Homo sapiens: one gene and its partner. The protein of the gene in region 2 purifies or fractionates together with the protein of the main gene of each other region. This does not show direct contact. Each region holds a gene or a part of one and is shown on either strand. Other genes may lie near its edges. The genes, in order: RAB11FIP3 and ACAP1.

Region 1 (3,808 bases), on a different chromosome or scaffold from region 2:
GCTGAGGTCAGGGAGCCCAGGAGCCACAGATGCCGGAGGCTGGTGACCCTGCAGCCCCTGCAGGAACTTGCAAGGCTGAAGGGACGTGCTCCCGATGACCATCCTGCTTAGGGCCGTACCATGCTCCCAAAGACATGGAATCCCTACAGCAGTTTCACCCTCAAAGCCAACGACAGTGAACTACCCGCTGCCGCCGACAGGAGAGTCAACTCTAGAGTCGCAGCACGCTCTCGCAATAGAATCATAAAAGTCAACAGTTTACAGCAATGCACAAAAATAGGGCTGAATACGGCCAGACGCGGTGGCTCACACCTCTCATCCCAGCACTTCGGGAGGCCGAGGCGGGCGGATCGCCTGAGGCCAGGGGTTGGAGACCAGCCTGACCAACATGGTGAAACCCCGTCTCTACTAAAAAATACAAATATTAGCCGGGCGTGGTGGCGGGCGCCTGTAATCCCAGCTACCCGGGAGGCTGAGGCAGGAGAATCGCTGGAACCTGGGAGGCGGAGGCTGCAGTGAGCTGAGATCGCACCACTGCACTCCAGCCTGGGCGACAGAGCGAGACTCCGTCTCAAAAAAAAAAAAATGGCTAAATCCACAAGCGCAACAGCAAGTGGAAGAAGCCAGGCACAGGAAGGACCTCCCTGTGTGGGGGAACTTAAGGAAGATGCAGGGCCGGTGGAGAGCTGGCTGCTGTCAGGGGCCTGGGAGGACCCTGGGTGCGGGAGTGTTTTGTTCTTGCCTGAGAAAAGGGCCGTGGGAATGGTCAGTTTGAAAAACCTGCTGGCTGTGCACTTACAACATGGGCACTTACTTGTGGGTATATTATGTTGGCAAAAAGACTTAAGCTCTGTAAAATATTTGAAGAGGTTTATTCTGAGCCAGATAAGAGTGACTAACAGCCCGTGATGCCGCCCCAGGAAGCCCTGAGAGCATGTGCCCAAGGGCCGGGTTTATGCATCTTGGGGAGACAGAAGACATCAACCCTACATGCAAGATGCTGCTTCAGTCAGGAAACATGGGACGGCTCTAAGCGGGGGACGGGCGGGCTTCCAGGTCAAAGCAGATGCGAAGATCTTCTGACTGGCAGTTGTTTGTTTGAAAGAGTTATTATCTAAAGACTTGGAATCAATAGAAAGGAATGCCTCGGCTTAAGATAAGGGGCTGTGGAGACCAAGGCTTTATCAAGCAGATGAGGCCTCCAGGCAGCAGGCAGCAGACCTCACAAGGTGCCAGACTCCGAGTTAATTCCCTCCTGCACCAGGGAAAAGACCTGGGAAGGGAGGAGATTCTCTACAGGGTGCAGACTTTCCCCACAAGACACAGTCCTGTAGAGCCATTCTGAAAAATGTCAAAGAAATCTATTTTGGGGTAAAATACTCGGATTTCTTTCAGGGCCTGCCACCTGTCATGTGATGCTACACTAGAGTCAGGCTGGAATGTGGTGTGCTGTCGCTGCTATAAAAAGTCCGCCTTTGTCAGAGTCTGTTTAATGTGAATGCTGGTCAGCTGGGCCTCAGTTCCAAAGGGAGGGGCCCAATGAGGCCTGCCTGACCTCCCTAACCATGGCCTGAACTACATTTTCAGGTTGACTGAGCAACGCCTGAGGCTGAGAGAGGGGGTCCATCAGTTGGCTGAAGGCTGAGAATTTAATTTTTGCTTCACAATTACACTTCAGCGTGCTGAGCGGACTTTCCAGTAGCAGGGGCAACACGGAAAGCAGGTCCACGTGAGCCACTGGACACCTCCTTCATCTGACCTTCTCCCAGACTCTGCCCGTCCCTCTACTCCGGCCCCAACTAGCTCGAAATACGGGGGCTACAGAAATCCTGAGGGTGGGGGACAGGTGGGGAGAGAACATGGCCTCCTCAGGGGTGCTGCAAAGGTGAACGGGTTCCAAAACCCTGCCGAGACATTCACTTCTATAATTTCTATCTCTACAGCTAAAGATGTTGAGCAACATTTGAAACCACAGTCGTCCTGACAGGAAAGTCAGCTGGAACAGGGAGACTGCTCGGGCAAGGCGGGCAGGACGGTGTGGGCTCATCCCAGGAAGGTCAGGAGCTACTGCAGGGCCAAGCCCCACCCCCACATAATGGATGCTAACCAGCACGCACTCCTCCAAGACCCCAGTCTGCCCATCAGACACCTCCACAGGGTGCCACATCCCAAGGCCTCTCCAGGAGGCCCGTGGCGGGGTACAGACCTGCCTGGGAGCAGCAGCAGGGCACCATGGTCGGGCTCCTCCATGGCGTCCAGGCACTCAGAGGGCACGGCCGAGCCGCCGGCACTGTCTGCGTCCCCTTCAGGTTGCAGCTCAGGGTGCACCAGGGTGCTGGTGTCCTCGTCCGTGAAGGTCTCACACTCACTGTAGGTGCTCTCGGAGCCCATGTACGCGCTGTCCGTCACCTCGTTGGCCTAGGAGAGAGTGCGCCAGCAGTCAGCGGGCACAAGCTGGGAGGGGAACTGCGAACGCCCCACACCTCACTGCTGCAAGGCCCTGGAGAGGGCAGTGTGGAGGGAGGGGTCTGACGCCTGAAGTCCCAACTGTCTCTAAGCAGAGACATTACTTATAAAACACAATTCAGGCTGGGCGCGGTGACTCACGCCTGTAATCCCAGTACTTTCGGAGGCCTCGGTGGGTGGATCGCTTGAACCCAGGAGCTCAAGACCAGCCTGGCCAACAAAGTGAAATTTGTCTCTACCAAAAATACAAAACTTACCTAGATGTGGTGGCACCTGCCTGTAGGTCCCAGCTACTCAAGAGACTGACGGAGGAGCTTGCCCAGGTGCGGTGGCACCTGCCTGCAGGTCCCAGCTACTCAAGAGACTGATGGAGGAGCTTGCCCAGGTGCGGTGGCACCTGCCTGCAGGTCCCAGCTACTCAAGAGACTGACGGAGGAGCTTGCCCAGGTGCGGTGGCACCTGCCTGCAGGTCCCAGCTACTCAAGAGACTGACGGAGGAGCTTGCCCAGGTGCGGTGGCACCTGCCTGCAGGTCCCAGCTACTCAAGAGACTGACGGAGGAGCTTGCCCAGGTGCGGTGGCACCGGCCTGCAGGTCCCAGCTACTCAAGAGACTGACGGAGGAGCTTGCCCAGGTGTGGTGGCACCTGCCTGTAGGTCCCAGCTACTCAAGAGACTGACGGAGGAGCTTGCCCAGGTGTGGTGGCACCTGCCTGTAGGTCCCAGCTACTCAAGAGACTGACGGAGGAGCTTGCCCAGGTGTGGTGGCACCTGCCTGTAGGTCCCAGCTACTCAAGAGACTGACGGAGGAGCTTGCCCAGGTGTGGTGGCACCTGCCTGTAGGTCCCAGCTACTCAAGAGACTGACGGAGGAGCTTGCCCAGGTGTGGTGGCACCTGCCTGTAGGTCCCAGCTACTCAAGAGACTGACGGAGGAGCTTGCTTTTTGTTTTTTGGGGGTTTTTTTTTGAGACAGGGTCTCACTCTTATCGCCCAGACTGGAACGCAGTGGCATGATCTCAGCTCACTGCAACCTACGTGGCCTGTGTTCAAGTGATTCTCCTGCCTCAGCCTCCTGAGTAGCTGGGAAGACAAGCATGTACCATCATGCCTAGCTAAGTTTTGTATTTCTAGTAGAGACGGGGTTTCACCATGTTGGCCAGGCTGGTCTCAAACTCCTTACCTCAGGTGATCCACCCACCTCAGCCTTCCAAAGTGCTGGGATTACAAGAGTGAGCCACAGCGCCAGCCAGGAGGACCATTTGAGCCCAAAAGGTCGAGGCTGCAGTGAGATGTGATCACACCACTGTGCTCCAACCTGAGTGATAAAGACCCATCTCAAAAAA
Region 2 (3,908 bases):
TGGGAGGCCCCTTTAGGGATCACAAGGCCACGGAGAGCTCCCTGATGGCAACAATGACAACATTGCAGCCTGTTGAGGGCACCAGGCCACCATCTCCCTGGGGCTGTCTCTTGGCAAGCTCCCATCTCCCAGCCCTCCAATTCTTTCAGGCCAGTACATCAGCAACAGGTGGAAGGAGAGGCCCTGAACAGCCTCAAGTCCAAGGTCCACATTGGACAGGCGAGGAACCAGGGAGACTCAGAGGCGGTTGGGACCCCCTCCAGCTTGGCACCACACACTGGCTCCATGCCTCCTCCTTCACTCCTCTGCCACACCACCCCACTCCAGGTATTTCTCTGTCCTCCAAAGACAGTGAGTCTCAAGTGGTGTCCAGCTGGTGGCTGGGGGGCTGAGCTGGCAAAGCCCAAGGAGTTCAGAGAGGGAGAGTGGAAGCAACCCCAACTCCTCAAGCCAGAACAAGCACAGCCTGGCACACTGAGCCTGGGCAGAGGCAAGGGGATGCATACACTGGCCAGGGAGGTAGAGGAGCTGAGTGGGGAGGTTCTAGGGGATCCAGAGTCACATGGACAAGATCTCATGCCTGCTACGAGAAAGCCATGAACTCAAACTCTTCTCTCCAGATGAAACCCTGGGACTTCAATGGACTCAAGAAAAGGAAAGCAAACAATGGAAAATGGGGCTGGTTGGGGGCGGAGTGGGGGCAACCTTCCCTTCATGACCACCCTATGAATAGAAATAAAGAGCAGAAGAGCAAGAGTCTGGGAGCTGTGAATCGGGTGCTCAGGCTGGGCCTGCTCAGTCGTTGAGGAGAGGGGAGGAGGAAGGGGAGTTCACACACAGGAACCATGAATATGACGGCAAAACGAAGAAAGCTGGGAGCAGTCCGGGGTACTGGACTCCACAGGAGCAGGCCCAAGCTGTAGCAGGATGACAATGACTGATGCAATTAATATAGTGAACCAGCTGGGCACAGTGGCTCACGCCTGTAATCCTAGCACTTTGGGAGGCCGAGGTGGGTGGATCACCTGAGGTCAGGAGGTCGAGACAAGTCTGACCAACAAGGTGAAACCCCGTCCCTACTGAAAATACAAAAAGTTAGCCGGGCATGATGGCAGGAGCCTGTAGTCCCAGCTACTCGGGAGGCTGAGACAGGAGAATTGCTTGAACCCAGGAGGCGGAGGTTGTAGTGAGCCGACATCGCGCCACTGCACTGCAGCCTGGGCGATGGAGGGAGACTCCGTCTCATAAATAAATAAATTTAGTGAACCATGAATTTACTGCTATCACCTTCTTCACTTCGTACAGCCCTGGAGGAAGGGGTTATCATTCCCATCTTCCAGATGAGAAAACTGAGGAATCAGAGAGCTCGTCCAGGGGCACATAACCTCTAAGTGACAGAGCCAGGATTTGAACCTAGATCTGCCAGGCCCCCAAGATAACCACGAAGAGAGAAAGAAACAGAGGCTAGAGCCCCAGGAGGAAGGAGCTGGCAGATCGTCTCTGAGGGTGGGGCTGTGGCTTCTCTGATCTCAGGCCCCCATCCTCCGCCCAGGCCCCGCCCCTGCCCCTCCCAGCACTGCCTGGAAGTGTGGGGTGAGAGCTCCTCCTAGGACACCCCTTTCCCCTTGGGGAAAGAATTGTGCCCCCAGGCCCTTCCCCGCGGAGGTCCCTCTCCTCCTTCCCCCTCATCTCCCCTTCCTGGGACAGAAAGTGCCTCCACCTGCATCCCCAGGGGCCCGGCCTCCAGGGCCCGCTGGCCCCACAGCAGGCAAGCTGAGATGACGGTCAAGCTGGATTTCGAGGAGTGTCTCAAGGACTCACCCCGTTTCCGGTAAGTGTGAACTGGTCTGGGGGGCTAAGGAGGGGAAAGTCTAACACCCCCAGCACACACACACCTTTCCCCAGGCCAGGTCTCCTTCCAGGGAGCAGGCCTCTAAGAGGCAGGAGCGAGCCTGTGGGCCAAAGTGGTACCCCAGCTGTGAAAGCAGGGTACTCCAATGCTCTCTGCCCCTGCATGCTCCTCCTGGCCTCTGCAGTTTCCCTCACCCCTAGAGCTGGCATTCCCTCTGGCCTCTCAGTGGGACCCCTGCCCCTCCCCCAGCACCTGCTCTGGGGCGGTTAGCAACTTCCTGCCCTGGCCACATCCACCCTCCTTCTACCCTTCCTGCTCTGGCCTGGGCTGTGGTAGCTCCCAGACTGCAGAGCGGGCAGAGCACAAGTAGGTGGGTGGGGGGCGAGCCTCTCAACTCTGCAGCTTTCTCCTCCGTACCCACCGCCCTGCGACTCCATCCCGCCTGATGAGGCAGACAGACCAGATGGACCCAAGCTCTCTTCCCATGACCCCCTCTTTCCCAGAGCCTCTATTGAGCTGGTGGAAGCCGAAGTGTCAGAATTGGAGACCCGTCTGGAAAAGGTGACCCTGACATGGAGAGGTGACCCAGGAGTGGATTAGGTTGAGAGGGGTAGGGCCAGGGAGAAAGCTGGAGACACAGAATGCATCCCAGGGATTATTGAATACTGTGTAGGGGAGATATTTTGGAGACTGCAGAGAAGCAAAAAAGGTGGTTCTGTACCGACAAGAAGCTCAGGATCTTGGAAAACAAGACTTACTTTTGGGCCAGGCATGGTAGCTCATGCCTGTAATCCCAGCACTTTGGGAGGCCAAGGTGAATGGATCACCTGAGGTCAGGAGTTCTAGACCAGCCTGGCTAACATGGCGAAACCCCATCTCTACTAAAAATGCAAAAATCATCCAGGCTTAGTGGCACCCATCTGTAGCTCCAGCTACTCAAGAGGCTGAGGCAGAGGAATCACTTGAACCTGGGAGGCGGAGGTTGCAGTGAGCCAAGATCGCACCACTGCACTCCAGGCTAGGCGACAGAGCGAGACTCTGTGTCAAAAAAAAAAAGACTTAATTTTGGACTTCCTTGTTCTGCTCTTGAGCTCCTGCATTGTGCCAGGCCCTGGGCATTCAGGGAGGACAAGATCATTTCTGCTCCCACGGAGCCCAAAGGCTGACTAGAAGACAAACCAGTGAAACGTTTCAATTCAAGACAGTAAGGTGTCCCCTGAGCACTCTATCAAACAGCATGTTCACACAAATACACACTCAAATGCTCTCTCATTCCCCTTACTTCGCTTTACTTTTCTCTGCAACATTTACCTCTGACACATTATGTATTTGCTTGCTATATATTAGTTCTCTATTGCTGTGTAACAAATTGTCACAAATTTAGTGGGCAACATTGTTTTATGGGCAACATGGTGAGACCTCATCTCTACAAATAATAATTTTATTTTTATTTTTATTTATTTGAGATGGAGTCTCGCTCTGTCACCCAGGCTGGAGTGCAGTGGTGCGATCTCGGCTTACTGGAACCTCCACCTCCCAGGTTCAAGTGATTCTCCTACCTCAGCCTCCCAAGTAGCTGGGATTACAGGTGTGCACCACCACACCTGGATAATTTTTTTTCTTTTTGTATTTTTAGTAAAGACAGGGTCTCACCATGTTGGCTAAGCTGGTCTTGAACTCCTGACCTCAAATGATCTACCTGCCGCAGCCTCCCAAAGTGCTGGCATTACAGGCTTAAGCCACCGCACCCGGCCTACAAATAATAATTTTAAACAATGGACTGGATGGAGTGGCCACAGCTGTGATCCCAGATGCTTCAATACTGGGCTCAAGTGATCCTCCCTCCTCAACCTCCCCAGTAGCTGTGCTACAGGCACATGCCACCACGCCTGGCTTTTTTAAATTTAAATTTATTTTTTGTAGAGATGGGGTCTCCCTATGTTACCTAGGCTGGTCTGGAACTCCTGGCCTCAAGTAATCCTCCCACCTCAGCCTCCCAAAGTGCTGGAATTACAGGTGTGAGCCACCACACCTGGCCTGAATTTTTTATTTTGAG

What was found.
Region 1: the proteins of ACAP1 (region 2) and RAB11FIP3 purify together in Homo sapiens (affinity purification with western blotting, with the first as the bait; one study listed by BioGRID). This does not show direct contact.

What each region holds. Positions count from the first base shown.
Region 1 is NC_000016.10:481,135-484,942, reverse strand, and holds part of RAB11FIP3 (rab11 family-interacting protein 3), read right to left. Parts: intron 2,419-3,808; coding exon 2,207-2,418; intron 1-2,206. UniProt on the Homo sapiens protein: Downstream effector molecule for Rab11 GTPase which is involved in endocytic trafficking, cytokinesis and intracellular ciliogenesis by participating in membrane delivery. Recruited by Rab11 to endosomes where it links Rab11 to dynein motor complex.
Region 2 is NC_000017.11:7,334,957-7,338,864, forward strand, and holds the start of ACAP1 (arf-GAP with coiled-coil, ANK repeat and PH domain-containing protein 1), read left to right. Parts: upstream 1-1,572; 5' UTR 1,573-1,778; coding exon 1,779-1,831; intron 1,832-2,306; exon of another isoform or gene 2,307-2,355; coding exon 2,356-2,413; intron 2,414-3,908. UniProt on the Homo sapiens protein: GTPase-activating protein (GAP) for ADP ribosylation factor 6 (ARF6) required for clathrin-dependent export of proteins from recycling endosomes to trans-Golgi network and cell surface.